7 linked regions of the Homo sapiens genome follow. The protein of the gene in region 4 purifies or fractionates together with the protein of the main gene of each other region. This does not show direct contact. Each region holds a gene or a part of one and is shown on either strand. Other genes may lie near its edges.

What was found.
Region 1: the proteins of BACH2 (region 4) and ACOX3 purify together in Homo sapiens (affinity purification with mass spectrometry; one large-scale study listed by BioGRID and IntAct). This does not show direct contact.
Region 2: the proteins of BACH2 (region 4) and KLHL21 purify together in Homo sapiens (affinity purification with mass spectrometry; one large-scale study listed by BioGRID and IntAct). This does not show direct contact.
Region 3: the proteins of BACH2 (region 4) and ZNF131 purify together in Homo sapiens (affinity purification with mass spectrometry; one large-scale study listed by BioGRID and IntAct). This does not show direct contact.
Region 5: the proteins of BACH2 (region 4) and CCDC88A purify together in Homo sapiens (affinity purification with mass spectrometry; one large-scale study listed by BioGRID and IntAct). This does not show direct contact.
Region 6: the proteins of BACH2 (region 4) and ZBTB17 purify together in Homo sapiens (affinity purification with mass spectrometry; one large-scale study listed by BioGRID and IntAct). This does not show direct contact.
Region 7: the proteins of BACH2 (region 4) and ATF7 purify together in Homo sapiens (affinity purification with mass spectrometry; one large-scale study listed by BioGRID and IntAct). This does not show direct contact.

What each region holds. Positions count from the first base shown.
Region 1 is NC_000004.12:8,434,224-8,437,723, forward strand, and holds part of ACOX3 (peroxisomal acyl-coenzyme A oxidase 3), read right to left. Parts: intron 1,745-3,500; exon of another isoform or gene 1,700-1,744; intron 1-1,699. UniProt on the Homo sapiens protein: Oxidizes the CoA-esters of 2-methyl-branched fatty acids.
Region 2 is NC_000001.11:6,596,370-6,599,869, forward strand, and holds part of KLHL21 (kelch-like protein 21), read right to left. Parts: intron 3,084-3,500; coding exon 2,678-3,083; intron 1-2,677. UniProt on the Homo sapiens protein: Substrate-specific adapter of a BCR (BTB-CUL3-RBX1) E3 ubiquitin-protein ligase complex required for efficient chromosome alignment and cytokinesis.
Region 3 is NC_000005.10:43,141,414-43,144,913, reverse strand, and holds part of ZNF131 (zinc finger protein 131), read right to left. Parts: intron 1-3,500. UniProt on the Homo sapiens protein: Plays a role during development and organogenesis as well as in the function of the adult central nervous system. May be involved in transcriptional regulation as a repressor of ESR1/ER-alpha signaling.
Region 4 is NC_000006.12:90,290,344-90,293,843, forward strand, and holds part of BACH2 (transcription regulator protein BACH2), read right to left. Parts: exon of another isoform or gene 2,140-3,500; intron 1,603-2,139; exon of another isoform or gene 907-1,602; intron 1-906. UniProt on the Homo sapiens protein: Transcriptional regulator that acts as a repressor or activator. Binds to Maf recognition elements (MARE). Plays an important role in coordinating transcription activation and repression by MAFK.
Region 5 is NC_000002.12:55,413,357-55,416,856, forward strand, and holds part of CCDC88A (girdin), read right to left. Parts: intron 1-3,500. UniProt on the Homo sapiens protein: Bifunctional modulator of guanine nucleotide-binding proteins (G proteins). Acts as a non-receptor guanine nucleotide exchange factor which binds to and activates guanine nucleotide-binding protein G(i) alpha subunits.
Region 6 is NC_000001.11:15,969,602-15,973,101, forward strand, and holds part of ZBTB17 (zinc finger and BTB domain-containing protein 17), read right to left. Parts: 5' UTR 3,438-3,500; intron 1-3,437. UniProt on the Homo sapiens protein: Transcription factor that can function as an activator or repressor depending on its binding partners, and by targeting negative regulators of cell cycle progression.
Region 7 is NC_000012.12:53,535,883-53,539,382, reverse strand, and holds part of ATF7 (cyclic AMP-dependent transcription factor ATF-7), read left to right. Parts: intron 1-1,042; exon of another isoform or gene 1,043-1,177; intron 1,178-1,830; coding exon 1,831-1,968; intron 1,969-3,500. Other genes in the region: ATF7-NPFF readthrough protein, read left to right, coding at 1,831-1,968. UniProt on the Homo sapiens protein: Stress-responsive chromatin regulator that plays a role in various biological processes including innate immunological memory, adipocyte differentiation or telomerase regulation.

The sequences.
Region 1 (3,500 bases), on a different chromosome or scaffold from region 4:
GACCCCTTAAAGTTGTAAGCCTTTAAACAGGCCAAGAATTTCTTTTTCGGGGGGCTCCGCTCTTAAGCCACAAGTCTGCCAGTGCTTCCGGCCGAATAAACCTCTTTCTTCTTTAATCCGGTGTCTGAGGAGTTTTGTCTGCAGCTCGTCCTGCTACATTTCTTGGTTCCCTGACTGAGAAGCGAGGTGATTAAGGGACGTTCAAGCCAGCCCCTTAGGCAGCTTATGCCTGCCCTGTAGAGCATCCCTGTGGGGGGCTCCAGCCAGCTTGCGCGATGCAGATCCTGAGAGTGCTCCCGGGTAGGCATTTGCCCCCGTGGAATGCCTCGTCAGAGTGGTGCATGGCAAGCCCCCGTGGAGGATCAACGCAGTGGCTGAACACTGGGAAGGAACTAGCACTTTAAGTCTGGACATTTGAAACTTGGTAAGACTGGTCTTTGGAACTTGCACACTCCATTTGAGTGGAAGCGTGGCCTGATCACCCATGGCGTGCCTGTACCGGCACTTTGGTTTTTGTTTTTGACTTGACTTGAAATGCTTGATACTTTGGTTTTTGTTTTTGACTTGACTTGAATTACTTGATAAACAGGCGTGCCTTTATTGGCACTTTGGCTTTGGTTCTGATTTTGACTTGGCTTAAATTCCTTGACAAACAGGTGTGCCTTTAATGACACTTTGGTTTTAGTTTTGATTTTCCTTTAGTGTGAATTAGACGAGTGAGTAACCTTTTACCCTTTCCTTCTTGTAGTGTGAATGTTGTTTTGTCTCAAGAGAAAAATAGGTCAAACACAAAGTAAGCCCACTCCGCTAGAAACTGTGTTAAAAAAAAATTTCAAGAAGAAAAATAAAAGGAAAGTCATCTAATCATCAAAACTTACTCTATTAAAATGCATGTTACAGAACCTTAAGAAAGGTTTTGCAGGGGATTACAGAGGTTAAGCCCCCAGAGGTTAAGAACTCTATGTGAATTAGAATTGCCCTCTTTTGCTGGGCGCGGTGGCTCACGCCTATAATCCCAGCACTTTGGGAGGCCGAGGCGGGCAGATCACGAGGTCAGGAGATTGAGACCATCCTGACTAATAGGGTGAAACCCCATCTCTACTAAAAATACAAAAACAAAAAATTAGCCAGGCGTGCTGGCGGGCACCTGTAGTCCCAGCTACTCAAGAGGCTGAGGCAGGAGAATTGCATGAACCTGGCAGGCGGAGCTTGCAGTGAGTGGAGATTGTGCCACTGCACTCCAGCCTGGGCAACAGAGCGAGACTCCGTCTCAAAAAAAAGAAAAAAAAAAAAGAATTGCCCTCTTTTGGTGTTGGATGGCCCACCGAAGGAACTACAGACAGGGAACAATTGGCCATGTATTTAAGGTGGTGACAGGGGTTGGAGGACAGCCAGTGGACCTAGATCAATTCCTTTATATTGATTCATGGTTAAATATAATATAGACAAAAACCAGCATAAATTTAGCCCTGTTTAACAGCTTATTGCAAAAAAGCCAAAAGTGAAAGTAAGAACAGCTGCACCAGCAGACACAGAGTTGAAAAGGGGAGTCCCAGAAAGAGCAAGAGAAGCCAGTTTTGCAGGAGCCGCCAGAGATAACAGAAATTCTTTCTCCATATGGCCCAGCCTACCCCCCTTTACCGAGGCCAACAGCCCCCTGAGAAACGAGATTAAGGAGCTAACATGCCCCAGGTCTCACCTTGAAGGGGAAGATCGGAGCCTCAAGAGGCCAAGGAAGGAAGTCAAGATAGTCAAGTGGGCCCTCTCAGATCTGGTCTTGCTGGAGCTATGCAAATGCCTCTCAGGGAGACACGAGGACCTGTCTATTATAATGACCAAGCCCACATCCAGGGGGTGGGGCAACAGACTTTCATCTATCAGCCCTTTTTAACCATTGATCTACTAAACTGGAAACACCCTGAACCCGCCACCTTGTTCCCAGCAGCTAGAGCCCTGTCGAGCATTAACTGTGTAGAGGTGTTGGACTCAAGTTTACTCTAGCAGACCTGACCTCCGAGACCAGCCTTGGGCATCAGTAGACTGGGAGCTATACATGGACGGGAGCAGCTTCATCAACCCACAAGGAGAGAGATGTGCAGGATATGCAGTGATAACCCTGGACACTGTCGTTAAGCTGAGCTCATTGCTTTAATTCAGGCCTTAGAACTCAGTGAAGGTAAGACTAAACATTTACACTGACTCTCAGTATGCCTGTTTAACCCTCCAACTGCATGGAGAATTATATTTAAAAAAGGGCCTGTTAAGATCTAGGAAAAAGGGGAAAAAAGACCCAGAGAATGCAACTCAGCTTCAGCATTTGCAGCAGTACTAAGAGGCACTTCTGCAGAGGCTAAGAGGTAGTAGAAAAAAAGCAATTAATATAAAAAAGATTTCAGAAGTGCTTCAAGGAGCTGACAAGAGCCTAAGTCAGTTTTATAAGAGACTCTGTAAAGCATTCTGGCTTTACATCCTATTTAACCCTGAGGCTGGTGGCTCACGCCTATAATCCCAGCCCTTTGGAAGGCCGAGGTGGGCAGATCAAGAGGTCAGGAGATCGAGACCATCCTGGCTAACATGGTGAAACCCTGTCTCTACTAAAAAAAAAAAAACACAAAAAAATTAGCTGGGCGTGGTGGCGGGTAGCTGTAGTCCCAGCTACTCGGGAGGCTGAGGCAGGAGAATTGTGTGAACCTGGGAGGTGGAGTTTGCAGTGAGCCGAGATCACACCACTGCACTCCAGCCTTGGCAACAGAGCGAGACTCCATCTCAAAAAAAAAAAAAAAATCAGCATATATATATATTCGAAAAAATATATATAAATATATATATACAAATATATGTAAATATATAGAAATATATACACGTAAATATATATATTTACATATATATGTAAAAAAATATATGTAAATATATATATAAATATATATATAGTGAATACTTCGTTTGTAAAGCAAGCCCAGGGTAACATCAAGCAGAAGCTACAGGCATGAATATCACCCAGTCTATAAAAGTGGCCACCAAGGCGTATGTTAGCTGTGACCAAGGAACAAAACAGGAAAGAGCAAAAGCAACAAGTGCGGCAGCTAGGCACGCCAAGGGTTAAATTCCTCTCCCCGGCTCAGCTCTATCTAGAAAAAAAGAGGAGGCTAGAGACCGGTGCCAAGAGAAGAGCAAAACAAAAAGAAAGACTCACAGTAAGTGTAAAAAAGAGAATCAGAAGAAAATGGGAGAGACAGCAGTGCGCGGGGGCAGGGCCTGTGCCACTGCCTGGCCCCGCCAGGTGGCCATAGAAGCAGGAGAACTCAGGAAGGAAAAAGAAAAACAAAGACTTAAGGAAAAAGGCCAATCTGTTAGCAACAGCTCTTATAAAAAGAGAGATTAGCAATGCGAGAGGACGTGGACACGGATGTAGACGTGGAAGAAGTCAAGTTAGGCAAGGATTCGAGAGCCGGCCAAGGCTAGAGAGACATTAATGTGTGAGATGAAAAAAGAAAGGACAC
Region 2 (3,500 bases), on a different chromosome or scaffold from region 4:
ACAGTGAGCCAAGAGCGTGCTATTGCACTCCAGCCTGGGAGGCATAGTGAGTGAGACTTCGTCTCAAAAACAAAAAAAAGAAACAAAGATACTACAAGACAAACAACAGTAGTTGTGAACCTGACACGGCAGCACAAAACCAGCCACAGACAATGCATAGACACGAGCCTGGCTGTGTGCCAAGAAAACTATCCATGGACAGACATTTACATCTCGTCTAACTTGAAATGTTATTCCTGATTTTTTGCCCCCAATCATTTCAAAATGTCAAAGTCACCCTCAGTTTGTGGGCCCTGTGGTGGTGGTGATGATGATGATGATTACACCCTGGAACCTGCTAGGCTGCCCTGTCTTTCCCCAGCAGAGACTTGCAAACCACAGCCCAGAGGCTGGACAGAGCTCGCCGGCATTCCCAGAGGGGGCTACTGCACCCCAGCCAAGGAGGCATTTTGTACCAGAACCAAGGGGAGGGAGGCCCAGGTCATTTGTGGGTCACATGGACAACGGCTGAGGCTGTGGCCTCCCTGAGAATGGCACGTCCTAGGCACAAGCTGCCCAAAGACAGGTGGTGTTCTGGGCAGAGGGTTATGTGGCTCTTGAAGAGCCAAAGTGCGCAGACAAAGTGACACCGGGACAAATAGCCCAGGGGGACCAGCCCCAAGCAGGGCCCCTGCATGCTTAGCCTTCTCTTTAGGGCTCAAGCAGCTTCCACTCAGGCTGAGCCTGGGCGCCCCTCCTCTGTGCTCCGGCACAGGTCACACTGGTAAGATGAACGCATGCAGCCTTTCCAGAGCACTGCCTCCTCCCACACGTGCAAGTGGCTTAGGAAACCCCTGGAAAGGTCAGCAGTGGGTGGGGGTGGCGGGGCAGACCCTCATGCTTCCCTATGGGAAGGTTAACCCAGCAGGCAGACCTCCCTGGCGCACATCTTCACATCTTGCTCTAGGACAGATGGGGGAGGGGAGGAGGACTCTCAAAGACACTGGGCCTGGAACCACTGCCTAGGGGCCGAAAGGAAGGTTCTGGCCCTCTGATAAGTTGTATTTATAGCCATCTCCACCCCCTCTTTGAAGACACCTTCACAACTTGGGGGAGGGAGAGCCGGGCAAAGGGTCAGATGATGTTTTATAATGGGACCAGAGCTGGCTGAGATTCCAGGGCTTTCTCAGAGCAAGACCATTGGTTCTGGGCATGTGGTGGTGCCCAGCTACTTGCGTGACAAGCAACGCCACCCCTGTTCTTCTTGGTGCTCACTCCAAAAGCCTGGTAAGGAGCCTCCTGTCTGGGGGGATGGTGGGGCAGATGCCAAGGCCAGGGCAGCTCTGGCAGTGCGAGGCAGGGGGCCAAGGAGCAGGGAGCTCACATCCCCCAAGCTCCCCATTCAAAGCCCCAGCACGAAAGGGCACAGTGGGGACTGTCATTCAGTTCTTCCCCTTCCCTCCTGGACCCAGAGCTTCAGGCAGGCTCTAGGCTGGGAGGGAGCAGCAGGATTATGTGAACAAGCAGCGGAGTACAGCAGGGAGGGGCTGCCCCGTGCCATCATTGATGCCCAGAAACCAGCCGGAGGCAGCATTTGGCTGTGACCAGACAGGTCATCAAGGCCAGCAGACATATGATGACCCGCAGGCTGCCTGTCTCTGCTCCGTGCTGCTCAGCCTACAGCCTACTCTTGCTGGAAGAGCTCAACTCCACCACCTGTGAAATCGCTTAAGAAAGCCTGGGGTTTTCCTTAAACCCAAAGGAATGGAACAAGCACTGTGGGCTCCGAAAGACCAGGCCTGGCTGGGTGTGGGGGCTCACACCTACAATCCCAGCACTCTGGGAGGCAGGAAATGTGAGACGATTGTTTGAAGCTAGGAATTTGAGACCAGCCGGGGCAATACAGCGAGACCCTGTCTCTACAAAAAGTTAAAAAATGAGCCAGGTGTGGTGGCTTGTGCCTATAATCCCAGCACTTTGGGAGGCTGAGGCAGCTGGATCACATGAGGTCAGGAGTTCTAGACCAGCCTGACCAACATGGAGAAACCCTGTCTCTACTAAAAATATAAAAATCAGCCAGGCATGGTGGCACATGCCTGTAATCCCAGCTACTTGGCAGGCTGAGGCAGGAGAATGGCTTGAACTTGGGAGGCAGAGGTTGCAGTGAGCCAAGATCGCGCCACTGTACTCCAGCTTGGGCAACAAAAGCGAAACTCTTCTTTTAAAAAAACAAAACAAAACAAAAAAAAACAGACCGGGTGCAGTGGCTCACGCCCGTAATCCCAGCACTTTGGGAGGCCAAGGCGGACCGATCATGAGGTCAGGAGATCAAGACCATCCTGGCTAACACGGTGAAACCCCGTCTCTACAAAAAATACAAAAAAATTAGCCAGGCATGGTGGTGGGCGCCTGTAGTCCCAGCTACTCTGGAGGCTGAGGCAGGAGAATGGCGTGAACCCGGAAGGTGGAGCTTGCAGTGAGCTGAGATTGCGCCACAGCACTCCAGCCTGGGCGACAGAGCGAGACTCCGTCTCAAAAACAAAACAAAACAAAAACAAAGAGACAGACCCAGCCTCCAACCCCAGCTAGGCCTCAGTTTCTCATCTGTGGAAAAGGGAGAACAGCCATGATGTGTGCTTAAGACAGGGCCTGGTAAGAGACACCAAACACACAGTGGGGCTCGGCACCTGGAACTCACCTGACAAAGTACATGAGTCCGTTTAGAGTCGCAGTCTTGGGGGCGAAGGACCAGGGCGGGAGCTGGCCGCAGTCCACCAGCGACCACAGGTCGGTGTCCGGGTCGTAGCACTGCATCACCATGGTCTCCTTGCCAGCCAGGGAGCCGATGGCATAGAGCCGGCCACGGCACGCAGTGGTGGAGCAGTTGTCCATGGGGTAGGTCATGGGCTGCAGGGCCTCCCAGGAGTCAGTGGTGTGGTCATAGCGCTCGGTGCTGTCGGCGGCCACCACGTACAGCAGTCCGTCCAGCACAGAGGAGCTGTGGTACTCGCGGGCCTTCAGCATGGGCGCCACCTCCGCCCACTCATTCACGCTTGAGTTGTACCTCCACACGCAGTCATAGAGCCGGGAGCCATCGGACCCACCTGCCAGGACGCATGACAGGCAGAAGATCAGCCCACTCAGGTGAGTCACCCACCTGCACCCTCCCGAACTTCCGCAAGGGCCTCTGCCTTGGGAGGAATTAACATCACTGGGCTTCACCCCAGACGCACACCCTCTCCCCAAAAGCCCAGGCCACATGTTGTGGCTAAGGCAAAGCACACGCTGACCACTGTCCAGCGAGATGACTGCTGCCAAGCCTCTACCAAACAAAGGTCCTGAGTGCAATGCTGGAAGAATCCAGCAGCCTCCTCTGGACACCGCCCCCCAGCCATACATACACCTCAGCAGACCAGAGCCCTGGGCCTTGGGACAGTTCTCCTGGGGAGCCACAGAGCTTGTCAGCAGGGCACACAGGGACTTGCTCACTAACTCCTAGGCTTCCTGGGCACCCTCCAAGC
Region 3 (3,500 bases), on a different chromosome or scaffold from region 4:
TGTTGGCTCTCACCTGAGACCAGAAAGATGAGTAAAATTTTGCCATGAACAAGCAGACAGATGGCATTCCAAGAAATGAAAAGAACATATGCATAATCATGTTATTATGTGGCAGATATTGTTTTAAGAGCTTTACGTGTACCACTTCCTTAAAACATAAATCTAAGACAGGATAAAATATTTGGAGATTTGATCTGACCCACAGCTCACTTTTCAAATAGCCTTAAACACAAGACATTTGTCAAAAAACAATCAATGGCAACTGTTTATCATTGCAACTACTGTGGTGGCATTACAAGTTTGGGCTATCAAGAAGCTGAACAAAAACTGAAAGGAAAAACTGGAGAATGAGATGTTCATAGGGGGCTTTAAAAAGCTCTGACAGACTGGACGTGATGGCTCATGCCTGTCATCCCAGTACTTTGGGAGGTCAAGGCAGGTGGATCACCTGAGGTCAGGAGTTCAAGACCAGCTTGGCCAACATGGTGAAACTCCGACTCTACCAAAAGTAAAAAAAATTAGTTGGGCGTGGTGGTGAGCGCCTATAATCCCAGCTACTCAGGAGGCTGAGGCAGGAGAATCACTTGAACCTGGCAGGCGGAGGTTGCGGTGAGCCAGGATCGTGCCAACACAAAGCTCTGTCTCCAAAAAAAAAAAAAAAAAAAAAAAAAAAAAAGAAAGAAAGAAAAAAAGGCCAGGCGCCGTGGCTCACGCCTGTAATCCCAGCACTTTGGGAGGCCGAGACAAGTGGATCACGAGGTCAGGAGATCGAGACCATCCTGGCTAACACAGTGAAATCTCGTCCCTACTAAAAATACAAAATATTAGCTGGGCGTGGTGGCGAGTGCCTGTAGTCCCAGCTACTCGGGAGGCTGAGGCAGGAGAATAGCGTGAACCTGGGAGGTGGAGCTTGCAGTGAGCCAAGATCGCACCACTGCATTCCAGTCTTGGGGACAGAGCGAGACTCCGTCTCAAGGAAAAAAAAAAAAAAAAAAAAAAAAAAAAAAAAAAAAAAGCTCTGACAATATTCCAGAGAACCTAGAGGGCCATACACATGCACAGAGCTGTATACATGTCCAGGAAAGACCTTAGCAACTCTCATCTCTATCTGACCTTGAGGTTCTGTTAACACAGGAAGTAAAGGCTAAAGCAGTTGTAAACTGCTTGATGGGACACTGATGGTGTACCCTATAAAGAGCTCCCCAACAAAAATGTGGAGACTTACTGGTTTAAGACTTTTAAGAAAATTTCTGTCCAATGATCAGTTTGTTCAGTAAACTACCTATGCAGACTTCAGTGGCCATACACACAAAATGTAGACTGTACAGAATTACAGGAAAGGGATTACAGAAGTCCAGGAAAGTCACTAAACCAGTAACAACAATAAGAAACGATGTCTGGCTCATCTAAACTAGTTCCAGTGGGATAGGAAATTAAGAAACTTCAAATACAGCGTGTAGTTGAAGATGATAAACTTGCAACAGTGGAGAAGCAGATCACTGCTTTTGAGGACTATGTGCAGTCCATGGATGTGGCTGCTTTCAACAAGATCTAAAATCCATCCTGGATCACTGCACTTAAATAAAAGCTTGAGGCCGGGCGCAGTGACTCGTGCTTGTAATCCCAGCACTTTGGGAGGCAGAGGCGGGCAGATCACAAGGTAAAGAGATGAGACCATCCTGGCCAACATGGTGAAAACCCCATCTCTACTAAAAATACAAAAATTAGCTGGGCGTGGTGGCGTGTGCCTGTAGTCCCAGCTACTCGGGAGATTGAGGCAAAGGAATCGCTTGAACCCGGGAAGCAGAGGTTGCAGTGAGCCGAGATCACGCCACTGCACTCCATCCTGGTAACAGTGAGACTCTGTCTTCAAAAAAAAAAAAAAAAGCTTGAAAGATTAAAAAAAGAAACCATGTCTGGCCAAGTATGGTGGCTTATGCCTGCAATCCCGGCACTTTGAGAGGCTGAGGTGGCCACGTCTCTTGAGCCCAGGAGTTCGAGACTAGTAGCCTGGGCAACATGGTGAAATCCTGTCTCTACAAAGAAATACAAAAATTAGCCAGGCATGGTGGCAAGCATCTGTGGTCCCAGCTACTTGGGAGGCTAAGGTGGGAGGATCTCTTGAGGCCGGGAAGTTGAAGCTGCAGTGAGCTGAGATTGTGCCACTGCACTCCAGCCTGGGTGACAAAGCAAGACCCTGTCTCAAAAAACCAAACCAAACCCAAACAAATCATGTCTGAGAGACAGAATGGGGGTGGGGAGGTAGGGGGTGGGATCTAAATAAAACTTATTTAAAAATATCCAATTTTTGGCCGGGTGCCATGGCTCACGCCTATAATCCCAGCACTTTGGGAGGTCGAGGCAGGTGGATCACGAGGTCAGGAGGTCAAGACCAGCCTGGCCAAGACGGTGAAACACCCTCTCTATTAAAAATACAAAAAAATTAGCCGGGTGTGGTGGCGGAAGCCTGTAATCACAGCTACTCGGGAGGCTGAGGCAGAGAATTGCTTGAACCCGGGGGAGGCGGTGGTTGCAGTGAGCCGAGATCTCACCAGTGTACTCTCCAGTCTGGGCGATGGAGTCTTGCTCTGTTGCCCAGGCTGGAGTGCAGTGGCATGATCTCAGCTCACTGCAACCACCGCCTCCCGGGTTCAAGCAATTCTCTGCCTCAGCCTCCCGAGTAGCTGGGATTACAGGCGCCCGCCACAACGCCTGGCTAATTTTTTTTGTATTTTTAGTAGAGATGGGGTTTCACCGTCTTGGCCAGGCTGGTCTTGAACTCCTGACCTAGTGATCCACCCGCCTCGGCCTTCCAAAGTGCTGGGATTACAGGTGTGAGCCACCGTGCCCAGGCCAAAAATCTAATTTTTAACCAAAAAAAATGATGAGACATACAAAGAAACAGTAAAATAAGGCTCATGCATGGGGGAAAAAGTCAACAGAAACCATCTCTGTAGAAGCTTAAACACTGCATTATTATAAACAGCCAACATATAATACTACTGTCTTCCTCTTTTCAAAGGGAACTCTTCAGAACATATTACATGCCTATCTGGTTCAAGAAACAATTCAACATGTTACTGTGTTTATACTGAAAAGCAATGATTGTTTTAGGTACTATTGGAATTCCAGTTTTTTTTTTTTTTGAGACAGGGTCTCATTCTCACCCAGGCTGGAGTGCAGTGGTGCAATCTCGGCTCACTGCAACCTCTGAGTCTCCCATGCTCAAGCGATCGTACCACCTCAGTCTCCTGAGTACCTGGGACTACAGTTGCACGCCACAGTGCCAGCTAATTTTTGTATTTTTCATAGAGTTGGCGTTTCACCATGGTGCCCAGGCTGGTCTCAAACTCCTGAGGTCCAAGTAATCCACCCACCTTGGCCTCCCAAAGTGCTGGGATTACAAGTATCAGCCACTGCGCCAGGCTTGGGATCCCAGTCTTGAATCTTCTCCAAAGTGACATACCACTCACTATCATGAGCAGCAAAAGGGCCACAGA
Region 4 (3,500 bases):
CTTCCTACCAGATGACGTGCTTCATGAGACCAGGGGCCAGGACTGGGTTTGCTCCCCATTAGCACTGTGGTCACTTAACACTATGCCTGCCATGTAAGAGATACTCAGTATATATTTGTTTAATGAATGAATGAGGCATCTGCCTCTAAGCAACAGTATTTCTGGACACTTGGCCCATTTTGCACTATCCACGAGCTTCTGTTGCTTAGAAGAATACAGGATAGGAAAAAAAGAAAAATTGCCAAAAATCTATGGATACTGAAATACTAAGGAAAGATGCTGAGCATGTACATTCACTTTGTTTCCTACTTGTGGAATGGAAATCATCACATTGGGATCTCCCAACTTTAAAATCCGAAGTGAAGGTCTAAGCTGTCTTTGGGTTAGACTCCTGGAAAGTCTTGAGGAAATTCCTGAAGTATCTGCAGAAAGTGACAGGGGAGGGAGAATAGAAGATGGCCCAAGACTAGAGTGATGGAAGACTTGGAAACTCGAAAAGCTTTCTTCTAACTAACTGGGACTTTGTCTACATGCCAGCTACAGGCTCAGGCACACATGAAGAGAATAATGAGATGAATGGGAGGACTGGAAAGTGGAGGATTTAAATGCTTAGGAAAGGAGCCAATGAAAGCTGACACAAGGACAGGAGGGACCTAGCAACCAAGCGCCGGCTCTCATCACATCAGCAGCAGCATGTCCTACAGCCTTCAGGAAAAGAACAAAAAGGTCAGGGAGGAAAATGACACATCTCAGAACCAAAGGGCAATTCATTATGAGGCTAAGGAACAAAGGAGAAGTCAACCAGGGAATATGCTGAAGAAACGGTGATTATGAAGTCACTGGGGAAGACTGAGAGGCATTTTGGCTGTAGTTCCAATGACTAGAATGAAGGATGATGTGAAATGCTTTTGGATTGGGAAGATTTATTATTTTGGAAAAAAAATAGCTCAAGGAAAAACAAATGGCAAAATTCCTGCCTGAATTTTGAAGTAGTGTCACTAGCAGGATGAGGTTCAATTTATACATTCTTTAGAAATGAAATGGCCCTTGGAAAAGACATAGTGGTAAGATTCGCAGGACATTTCCAGCCTTACGGAAGCTGAGTAGCATGCTGATAGTAAAATTAAGTTTCAGTTTTAGATAGACTGACATTTGAAATTAACAAAAAAAAAAGTAAAGGGAAAAAATTAAAAGACCCTGAACTGACAAAAAAAAAGAAAAAAAAAAGCAACTACTGTCTTTTTTTTTTAAATTAAATGTCATCACAAACAAAAAAAAAAAGGTGAAAGTTGAGTTGTATTTTGGGCAATCTTACTGAGTTTACAAAATGTTTAGTTCATAGCAGGTTTCAGTTTGGACATGAACAGTTTGTAAATATTTACATAAAATTTAAAGATAGGAGGACAGCAGAGGTCATATATTGCTATTAACAATACAGAAGCGATTTTCCGTCATTCCCAAGGCCTTGGTGCTGCGTTCCCATATGTGGCCCCAGCTCTGCCAAAAGCTTGTCTTCTTTTCCAAAGAAATTCCAATTTTTGCAACCAGCATTGACTTCTGAACTGTGAGTACCTCTGACAGGGTCATATGTCGCTGAAACTTCTTCAACATCCAGACAGGGAAAGGAGAAAAACAGGGAGGCAGATTTACAGCGTCTGCTATCTGAATTGCAGATTTTGACAAATATGTTACATTTTATATTGTTCTCTGTTCTATGTGAGGGCAGGGACCATGTTCTCTGTATGTCACAGTCCTACACCATGCCCAGTCATTGATTCAGGACTGGACTGTGTAATGGAATGGGGAAATAACCTTCAGACATTCAAGAAAACATGCACTATATTCAGATTAAGTTCATTCCAACATGAGATTAGTTCTTCCAACTCTGCAGAATGGGCAGGCACGACACCTACTTCAAAGGGTTGCTTTGAGGAATCAATGAAGTACATTCAGGCAAGGTAGTCAGCACTGGGTCTGGCACATGGTGCGGATTCAGTAAATCAAAACTATTATTTTGGTGAGTGTTCTCAAATGTCAAACTCCCATGGAGGTCCTCAGGCATTACCCAGCCAAGTTACCCCATCTGGTCAGTAACAACTAAATAGAGGGCAGGTGGTTCAAAAGTAATGGATTATTCACCTGCAAGGAATCACACTGTACTCATGGTATTAAATTATTCGGCCTTTCATGTCGAATTCTCTGTTAAAAAGGAAGCTGATCAATCCCTGAGTGGGACTCAATGTTGATTTGAAGTTTTGTTTTTTTGGCATCTTTCTATTTTCCAGGTAGTTGTAACCATTCATTGGGTGCATACTCACAAATCATCCACTATATGCCAGGCCTTTAGAAAACAGAGACACACAAAGATATTAAACAAAAAAAGATGTTTCAGTCTGTTCAGTAGTGGGAGACAAGCAGCCCCCAGGCCGACACTAGCTCTTACATATGCTTTCATCCAAAAATTTTTTAAAGATTTGAGCCAATATTTAAAAATCAGGAAATTCCACATAAATATCCAATATTCAGCTTCCCCTGGAAAAATCAAATGATGTGGCAACACAAAGCCAGTAGTCCTACCAACTGTTCCCTAGCAAGAGTCTACAATGAGTTGAGTAGGGGCGGCCTGCCACTCCACACTATGCCCTGCTCCTCACCAGAACCAGGTAAGTACATAATTTGCAGGGCTCAGTGAAAAATGAAAACGAGGGGCCCTTTGTTCAAAAATTATTAAGAATTTCCGAAGAAAACAGCAGAACCTTATACCAAATATGAGGTCCTTCTGAGCAGGGAAGAGGAAGGGGGCCTATGTAACTGCACAGGTCTTATGCCCATGAAGCTAGTACTGGCTCTCACCCCCTGGACACACAGGAAGATATTTATTTATCTAAGTATTCTCTCATTCATTAACAATCAAGCCTGCATTTACAATAAGCTAGATGTCACACCCCTGAAATCTGAGGTTCAAAAACTAGAGTAGAGGGGCCAGGCACAGCAGAGATAGAGAGCCACTAGGGTCTCTTTCCTTTTTGTTAAGACTGGATCCACACCAGAGACACTGAAAGTTAATCCAAGTAAAATTAAACTGCTCTCAACAATACAGATTGGCTTGAGCCCTTTTGTTGGCATCACAGGAGCCTCGATTAGGAATTCTGAGAAACAGCTCACAAGCGCTAATGAATAACTAAGTCCTGTCGGCTGTGCAGACAGTGGGCCCAGAAGTGAAGGGCTGGCCTAGGAGAGATCTGAACATGAACCTGACCATCTGGCCCTCTGTGACTCACTTTGATCACAAAATGAATTGCAACAAATTGAAGAGCACATGGCTAGAGTTAATTGTCTCATCTGTAATCTGAATCTACTTTTAAGCAGTTATTATTACCCTCTATCAGGTGGAAACATTTCCTACCATCACTGCAAAGTGCATTTTCCTGATGAACTATAATGGATCATTAAATTCCATATCTGAATAACAATACTGTGCACTTATTCAGTGCCTTTCA
Region 5 (3,500 bases), on a different chromosome or scaffold from region 4:
GACTTATCTGTCCCTGCCTTAGTAGATAATCCTTCCCCATCAGGAAGGGAAACATTATCTCCCATCTTATAAATGTAGGAACTGTAATTTGGAGATATTAGGCTCACATACCAATAAGTAGCACAGCTAGAACTGAACCCAAGTCTATGTCTATCTGACATAAGGCTCAAATTCATTCCACTTTACTACACATGGCTGTATTATTCAATCATTCAACAGAAATATATCAAGAATGTACTGTGTGTCAAACACTGTCCTAAGAATACAGAGACAAAAGATAGAGTCCCTGGCTTCAGGAAACTCACAGCCTAGTCAATAGAGTCAAGCAAAGAGTCAGGCTGGTTTGTGCCTATAATCCCAGAACTTTGGGAGGCTGAGGTGGGTGGATCGCTTGAGACCAGCCTGGGCAACACAGTGAAACTCCATCTCTACAAAAAATACAAAAATTAGTCAAGCATGGTAGCGCGTGCCTGTGGTCCTAGGTACTTGGGAGGCTAAGGTGGGAGGATAGCTTGAGCCCGGGAGGTGAAGGCTGCAGTGAGCGGTGATCATGCCCCTGCACTCCAGCCCGGGCAACAGAACAAGACCGTCTCAAAAAACAAAAACAAAAACAAAAAAAAAAAACAAGCAAACAAACAAACAAAAAAGGGCAGATGACTTCTGAAGTCCCTTCAAACCCAAAATTCTAAAGGAAAAGCCATAACAAGTTTATCACAATTACCAAGTGTTCCAAGTACAGCTCTCTATAACTATCTAATAGGGTTGAATCATAAATAATAATTCCAAATATTGTTCTGATACTATTAACAATTTTCTCAGTACTTAAAATCCTAAGACATCCATATTTTCAACCGTTTGGGTAATATGAATTGGACGTTTTTAAAATTTTAGGAGTATGAAATTAACTACAATGTCACAAATTCCTTAAAAACTCACAGCAAGTAATATTCAAAACTGGCTCCAGAATTAAATGACATCTCAAACAGGAAAATAATTATTTCTACTTCACTGTCACCAAGCCCTACAACTGATAACAATAAAGAAAAAAGATTTCAATCCACTGAAGTAGGAAAATGCCCTACAGCGTACAGAAGAGCTGGCCCATCATTCCAGATCTCTGAATAGCTTTCCTCTTCCTTCCCATTAGTTTAAGACGATTGAAGTCATGTTACAAGTTCTAACAGAGATTATTTGCTTCAAAAAGCTACTCAATGAAATTCAGGATTCATCTCTGAATACAGTAAATCTCAAGTCAGTGAAAAGACTTCAAAATTGTGAGGCAGAGTCAGTAAACAGTGTCATGAAGAAGTTAGCTCTTCACTTTCAGAGTCTGGGTGCAAAACAGCAACAACAGAGTCATTAAATTAATCAATTTTCTTAGTCTTAATAAACATTTTAGATGAAAAAACTTATATAATAAGGTTCCTGGCCAGGTGTGGTGGCTAATGCCTGTAATCCCAGCACTTTGGGAGGCTGAGGCAGGCGGATCACGAGGTCAGGAGATCGAGACCATCCTGGCTAACACGGTGAAACCCCGTCTCTACTAAAAAAATACAAAAAATTAGCCAGGCGTGGTGGTGGGTGCCTGTAGCCCCAGTTACTCGGGAGCCTGAGGCAGGAGAATGGCGTGAACCCGGGAGGTAGAGCTTGCAGTGAGTTGAGATCACACCACTGCACTCCCGCCTGGGCATGGAGCGAGACTCTGTTTCAAAAAAAAAAAAAAAGGTTCCTATAAAAAAAGTCCATCTCACATCTAAAAGCAGTAATATAAGACTAGCAGAGCAAAAATGTAATTAAAAGTATATAAACAGCCAGGCATTGTGGTGCGCGTGCCTGTAGTCCCAACTACTCAGATGTTTAGGGTGGGAGGATGGCCTGACCCCAGGAGTTTGAGGCCATAATGCACTATGATCACATATTCCAGCCTGAGCAACATAGCCAGACCCCATCTTGAAAAACAAAAAAGTATACAAACATATTTCTACTGGTGGCCAGAGACCAAATTTGCCCTCCTCCCTGAAACAACTGGGGGGAAAAAAAGACAAAATACATAAAACGTTTTTCAAGACATTGGACATCAGGCAACAAAAGACAGTGATCCCCAATCGATGGGAAACAAGCATGAATCCAACAACTGCTCCAGCATTATGGCCTTGAAAGAGTTTCCAGGCCACAGAACAGGAAGAGGGGAATCCAGGCAGAGCACAATGGTCTGAGCTGAGGGGACAGAACTGAGTCTGGAGACAGCAAGGTAGCTAAAGTACACAGGGCAGAGTACTTAACAGAGTTGAACAGTGAGAAAGATCTGCAGAGGGTATCCCTCAAGTCTGAGTACTTATCAGAATATAAGTGTGAGGAAACTACCCAAAGATAGTGAAAGAACCACCAAAAAGACTGAGAGCGAACACCACCAAGTAGGTCCTGTTTCCACCAGCTGGAGTATTCAGAGGGGTTTTGCCTCAACAGTGTGACAAAGTAGTACTGCCTAACAAATCTTAAAAGCATGTCCCCAAAAGATCAAACTGTTTTCAGGTAACTTAATGCATCCCAGAACGAAGCTCAAGATTTTTGTATTTAATGGAATACAAAAATATCCAGCGCCAAACAAGCTAAAATTTCAAATGACTGGCATCAAATTAAAAAAAAAATCACCAGGCATGCAAAAGCAACAGAATCCATAATGGGAAGAAATATCAATCAACCGAAACCAACCCCAAAATGACACAGACAGAATTAGCAGACATAGACATTAAGCCAATTATAACTGTATTCCATATGTTCAAGAAGCTAGAGAAAAGACAGAGCATGAAAAACATAGACATGGAAGATATAAGACAATTTCTAAAGATGAAGTTATAATATCTGGAATGAAAAATATGGTGGGTGGGATTAAGAGCAGACTAAACATTATAGAAGAAAAAATTAATAAATTTGGAGACATCACAACAGACTATCCAAAATGAAACAAAGAAGACTGAAAGAAAATTGAATTAAACATCAGTAAGTTTTAAGACAACATCAAAGCTACTAATATATATGTAACTGGACTTCCAAAAGGGTGAAGAGGTCAAATAAATAAATAAATAAATATATATATATATATATATATATATATATATATATATATATATGTATATATTTTCTTCTAGGAATAATGACTGAAACTTTTCTAAATTTGATAAAAACTATAAACCCACAGATCCAAGACACTCATTGAATTCCAAGCACAAGAAACATGGAAAATATATAAATAGTTTCATTTACAAAGGGTTCTTGCTCACAAATTCTGTAACTAAATGTACTGTAGAAATTAGACTAGGCCTAACTTTTACATTTACTAGGTATAGAGTTACAACTGACACTTTATAATAGAGTACATTAAAGCATACATTAATCTAAGTAAAGTGCTTAACAGAAATCCTAATGACTTCAAAATTAGCAAAATACAGCTTATAAAACAATGTATATTTTGTTGCCCTATCAGTTAAATAATTTATTAA
Region 6 (3,500 bases), on a different chromosome or scaffold from region 4:
GGAGGGTGGGGGGAGCAGGGCAGGGAGATGATAAATTGACCATTATCTCAGGATGTCTCTTTCTGACTGCCAATATCTTCGCCATCGCCAGCATCACCAACCCAGACTGGCTCAACACCAGGGAGTCTGTGGGAGCACTCACTGTGGGCCTCATGGGACAGTGTCAAACAATGCGTGGACGAGAGGGGATGTGCATCCCTCCCCAGCTTCCCCTGGAGTGGGTCACCATGCTGTTTTTTATCATCATGGGAATCATTTCATTGACTGTAAAATTCCCCTTAGACAGACGGAGGCAGCTAGGACTCTGGAGTCAGGTGTGAATCTGCCCTCCCATTGATTGTCACATGTGGTTTGCTGGTGGCTTCCCACTGGGGAAGAGAAGCTACAAAATATGTTCGATGGATAGCATTCACTGGGATGATGCTTTTCTGTATGGCTGCCGTCATATTTCCAATAGGATTTTACATCAATGAAGTCAGAGGTCAACCTTATAAATTACCCAACACCACAGTAGTTGGGTCATCATATGTACCTTTTGTCTTATCAATTTCTTTACAATAGTAGGACTTCTATTTGCTGCCAAGTTTATTTGCCAAGCTGATAAATGTCTAAATTGCTTGACTCTCACTTATTTTTGAAGGGTGAGGAGGACAAAGGCGAGACATCTGAGCAGCCCTCATGGGAAGATGCTCACATGAAACTGATGCTGAGAAGGAAAAATAAAAAAAGTTTTGATTTGCTCTCACTATGCACTTTGGACTTAAAGAAGAAAAAAAAAAAAAAGGAAGAGCCTTTTTGTTTTATTTTTGAGACAGAGTCTCACTCTGTCACCTAAGCTAGAATGCAGTGGCGTGATCTCAGCTCACTGCAACCTCCGCCTCCCGGGTTCTCCTGCCTCAGCCTCCCGAGTAGCTGGGACTACAGGCACCCACCACCACACCCAGCTAATTTTTTTTTTTTCTCTTGAGATGGAGTCTCGTTCTGTCACCCAGGCTGGAGTGCAGTGGCGTGATCTCGGCTCACTGCAACCTCCGCTTCCCAGGTTCAAGTGATTCTCTTGCCTCAGACTCCTGAGTAGCTGGGATTACAGGCGCCTGCCACTGCGCCCAGCTAATTTTTGTATTTTTAGTAGAGACGGAGTTTCACCATGTTAGCCAGGATGGTCTCGATCTCCTGACCTCGTGATCCACCCACCTCAGCCTCCCAAAGTGCTGGGATTACAGGCGTAAGCCACCGCGCCCAGCCAGGAGAGCCTTTTCCATAACCAAATACAGACAATACTGACTAAATCTCCTGAGCATATTCAGGCAGTCAGGTCTGCACTGTGATAGCAACCTAGAGAAGGAGAATGCTTTCTACTGAAAAGCATGTGGCCCTTTGTGACTCTGTTGTTCCATTTTTAATATCTAATGATTCAATAGAGGGAAAAAAAAAGTCTAAGTAGTTATGTATCATGGTGGACCAGAGGGATGCAAGAGAAGTTCATGTGGGGCTGGCCTCACCTCCTGAGAAATCAGTGTTCACAACTTCCTTGTAATAGTATGAGCCTTTGGCACCATTACTGCACCAAGAAGCCAATAGATCAAAACTTGTTTGCTAAAATGTATGTAAAAATTCTGAAATTCCCTATTCTGTGTGTATGAAAAAAAAAAATCAAACACTAAGACACATGTTTTGGGTAGGTAGGTGGGTGGGTGGGGGAAATCTCTCTCTCTCTCTGTATGTGTGTATGTATATATATATATGTACATACACACACAATATATATATATACACACACTATATATATATACACACTATATATATACACACACACTATATATATATACACACACACTATATATATACACACACACTATATATACACACACACTATATATATACACACACTATATATATATACACACACACTATATATATACACACACACTATATATATACACACACACTATATATATACACACACACTATATATATATACACACACACTATATATATACACTATATATATAAAATATATATTTTGCTGACAGAAAAAAAAAAACGAAAAGGTTGGGGAGTGCTGCACTATGCAGCAAACCCTGTGAATTACCTGCCTGACCTCATGTAATTCTCCAGACAATTCTGTGAATTACCTGCCTGTCCTCATGTAATTCTCCAAACAATTCTGTCATCCCTATTTTACAGATGAGGAAACTGAGGCTCAGCAATGAAACTGAGTAAAAGGCTTGCTGTCTGATGTGTCAGAAGACAATCTTGTGATTAGGAAAATTAATAGTCATTACTTTTTTTTTTTTTAACTCTTTGGGACACAGTTTCAGAAGGAACTGACTGTCAGGACACAGAGCCACTCAACGGGAGGGCAGATTCACACCTGACCCCAGAGTCCTAGCTGCCTCTACCTGTCCAAGGGGAATTTTACAGTGATCAGTCCAAAATGCGCGGTTTGCAACATCTTCACCCCCTCAGGAAAGCCTTCCAGCGCCAGTGCATCCTCCCTGTGTGCGCACACCCTCCACCAGCCCTCCAAGGTATTTCCTGCATTGCATTGTGAGGATACACATGGCTGGGAGCACCTGCTCCCGGGATTCAGTCTTACTTGTGCCAGCATCCCTAGCACCCAGCACAATGCCTGACACATGTTGGGCACAGAAACAATGAATGGATAAACAAGCCTGGCCTCCCTGGGCCCAAGCCCTGTAAACCTACCCAAAGCCAGAGCAGCCTGCCTTGGGGACTCAGTGGACCTCCCCTCAGGCTGGGATCACACCCCCAAGAGAGTAATCCAGACAGACTGAGGACAGAGCAGGTTCTCTCAGCCAGCTTTTTCTCCAGCACTGAAACAGTCACAATCTGTTCTTTAGCTGTGCACCAGATGCAGGAACTGGCTTATGTTTGGGAACCATGTTGCACAAAAATCCCACCTTAAACATTAGAACTTTAAAAGGAATGAGTGTGTGCTCGCTGCTCTGTGTCCCTTTTTGCCCTAGGGAGATCATACATGATGGCAGGAGCTACAGCAGCCAGCTTGGACCATGAGATGGAAGCCTAAGTTTGAGCAAGAAAAGCCACATTATCAAAGGAATCCTGCTCCCAGATGATCTCACAGAACACAGCAAGCTGTGCTACCAGCTCTGGACTGTGTACTTCCAGAATGTTAAGGAGCAAGGAATAAACTTCTGTTTCCACCACTGTAGATTTCACCTAACTAAAGGCGTGAGCATTGCCCAGTGATCATCCACTCTGGCCTCTCTCTGCAGGTAAAACAATAATAGTAAGATCAACAATTTCCCAACCAAACTGTAACTGGGATTTTGTCATTACTATATAATTTTGAAGAAAAGGCTATCAGGAAAGAATCATTTGAATCATGTTGAACCTAGAGAAAAAGGACAAACTGATCTGATTTGTTTCATCCTTGAGTATTACAGACATACCTCAGATTTCCAGACAGCCCAGGCTACTCTTTTCTGACAGTTTGCCTGTGTAAACTCCAGCTT
Region 7 (3,500 bases), on a different chromosome or scaffold from region 4:
GGTCTAGAATTTCGGGCCTCAGGTGATCCTCCCACCTTGGCCTCCCAAAGTGTTGAGATTACAGGCATGAGCCACCACACTTGGCCTATGAGGGATTTTATACCCAATTTATTATAGGCAAATTCAAGAAAATTAGCTTCCCATAAAAAGCTTCAAGTCTTTTTCATTGCCATTTTAGCTCAGTTGACACTTCTGGGAGACTAGTTTATAGTCAGCCCTTTCCTCACTGGGCATTCCTTGGTGTATCCTCCTGCCTGTACAGGAGTGGTCTTTACTTCCCCTTAATGAGAAGTACAGGCTCAGTGGAAGAGTCTCCAGAAGTGTTTAATGAGTGTGGAACTTTGCTGAACCGCAGCTTTGCTAGGAGATGCCCTAGAGGATTTCAAATCTATGGTTGTATTTACTTAGAGGCTTCTCCTTCCCACTAGTCTCTGACTTAAGAGATCTCAGAATTAGCTAAATTGGACCTGACATCTTAGCTATGTAGAAAAAATGAGGCAGAAATGAAGCTACTTTTGCTGTTGCTCACCCTCCTCAGATTGGGGAAAATGAACCACTACTACCTTCTCTAATGTAGTAGATATCACATTATCTTTAATTTACTCAGCTAGCTATCAAGAAGGTTTCTAAGGGTTAGGGTAGCAAGGGAAGATCTTGAAACAAGCAGTTGCTTCACCAAGAAGCCTGGGATACAGGATAGATAGAACAAAGGATCCACTTTGTTATGAAACTGAACTGCAATGCCAACCCTCCTATCCTGGTTCAGTGTCAAGGCCATTATCTCAGATGGTTTATTGTTCCCTGCAAGGCCGTTTACAGCTCCACAGTTCTGTGAGGTGATTGCATCACTGCCAGGAAAGTGCTCTCTTTCCTTTCTGGTTTTCTCCAGTCTTGCTCCTAAGACCAAGTTGTCATTTATTTCACCAATCAGATGATCAGCCTTTCTTTTCTGTTACCCCAAACCCCTTGTCTACCTGATACATCCAGCACCATATTTTGGGGTGAGATCACCATCAAGCATGGTGAGTTCCCCAGAAAATACCTTTCCTATCTGGTTTGCAGTACTTGAATAGCCAGTTTGTCTTTGTTTGCTTTTGGTAATTGGGTAATCCTTGTTGGCAGAGAAAGTGTTCACAGCTCTCCAGTGGCCAGCAGATTCAGGAATTATTTTGATTTCCTGAAAAATATTATCATAATATTTGCATGGATTTAAATGGCATCTTTTTTTTCAGGTCTTTATAAATATTTGTTTACCATTGGTGAAGCAGGTATTATCTTCATCTTATAGTTGGGGAAACAGAAGCCCTGAGAATTACCGACAAAATGATTTGGCCAGAATTGTACATAAAACATAAGGGGCCCATATTTCTTGGCCGGATGCAGTGGCTCATTCCTGTAATCCCAACACTTTGGGAGGCTGAGGCAGGTGAATCACCTGAGGTCGGGAGTTCGAGATCAGCCTGACCAACATGGAGAAACCCCATCTCTATTAAAAATAAAAAATTAGCTGGGCGTGGTGGCACATGCCTATAATCCCAGCTACTTGGGAGGCTGAGGCGGGAGAATCTCTTGAACTTGGGAGGTGGAAGTTGCAGTGAGACGAGATCACACCATTGCACTCTAGCCTGGGCAACAAGATTGAAACTACGCCTCAAAATACAAAACAAATCAAACATAAGGGGCCCACATTTATTTGACATGCAGTTCAGTGCATTGTATAAGAGCAGAACTTCTTAGAAGCATATTCCCTTATCTTGGAAATGGGAAAATATAGATTCAACCTGAAAGGAATCATAGGGTTAAACTCTGTTCATTTTTCTTTCACAACAGGCTGCTGCTGGGCCCCTTGACATGTCTCTGCCTTCCACACCAGACATCAAAATCAAAGAAGAAGAGCCAGTGGAGGTAGACTCATCCCCACCTGATAGCCCTGCCTCTAGTCCCTGTTCCCCACCACTGAAGGAGAAGGTAAATTCTCTACCAAGGATCATCTCAAATGTTAATTGATAAAGTTTTGATTCATTAATTATATAAATAGTATGTCCTAACTACTCAGGAGGCCAAGATGGGAGAATCACTTGAGCCCAGAAATTCAAGACCAGCCTGGGCAACATGGAGAAACCCCATCTCCACTTAAAATACAAAAATTACCTGGGCGTGGTGGAGCATGCCTGTAGTTCCAGCTACTTGAGAGTATGAGGTGGAGGATCACTTAAGCCCTAGAGGTCGAGGCTGCAGTGAGCTGTGATTGCTCCACTGCACCCCAGCCTGGGCAACAGAGTGAGACTGTCTCAAGAAAAAAAAAAGTATGTATTATAGGAGGACCGATTGTATTTAAAGGAATATTTAGAAGATTTATATAAATTATACCTATTCTCCTTCCCAGCAATTTCACTTATAAGTCTATATGGAAGAGAAATTAGTGCATATGTCTACCAAAAGAAGTATGTTAGAATGTTCATAGCAATTGTATTCTTTTGTTGTTGTTGTTGTTGTTGAGACAGTCTCACTCTGTCACCCAGGCTGGAGTGCAATGGCGTGATCTTGGCTCACTGCAACCTCTGCCTCCCAGGTTTGAGCGATTCTCCTGCCTCAGCCTCCCAAGTAGCTGGGACTACAGGTGCGTGCCACCACGCCCGGCTAATTTTTGTACTTTTAGTAGAGATGGGGTTTCACCACATTTGTCAGGCTGGTCTCGATCTCCTGACCTCAGGCGATCTGCCCGCCTCGGCCTCCCAAAGTGCTAGGGTTACAGGATTGAGCCACCGCGCCCGGCCAGCAATTGTATTCTTAATAGCCAAAAATCAGTCAGGCACGGTGGCTCATGCCTGTAATCCCAGCACTTTGGGAGGCCGAGGTGGTGGAATCACTTGAGGCCAGGAGTTCAAGACCAGCCTGGCCAACATAGTGAAACCCCATCTCTACCAAAAATACAAAAATTAGCTGGATGTGGTGGTGTGTGCCTATAATCCCAGCTACTCGGGAGGCTGAGATAGGAGAATTGCTTGAACCCAGGAGGCCAGGGTTTCAGTGAGCCAAGATTGCACCATTGCACTCCAGCCTGAGCGACAGAGCAAAACTCCGTCTCAAAAAAAAAAAAAAAGTGAACTAATAATTACACAGCAATGTGAGTGAATCCCACAAACATATCCAACAACAACAAAAAAGTCATACACAAAAGTACATACTTATAAAATTCAAGAAGAGGCAAAACTGTTTGACAATGATAGAACTCAGGATAGCATTTACCTCCTGTGAAGGAATGGTGTGGATTGGAAAGGGACATAGAACTTTCTGGGGTGCTGGAAATGGTCTGTATCCTGATTTTACATCTGTAACAAGTCATCTTTTTTTTTTTTTCTTTTGAGAGAAAGTCTTGCTCTGATGCCCAGGCTGGAGTGCAGTGGTGCAATCTCAGCTCACTGCAACGTCTGCCTCCCAGGCTCAAGCAATTCTCTTGCTTCAGCCTCCCAAAGTGCTGCGATTACAGACGTGAGCAC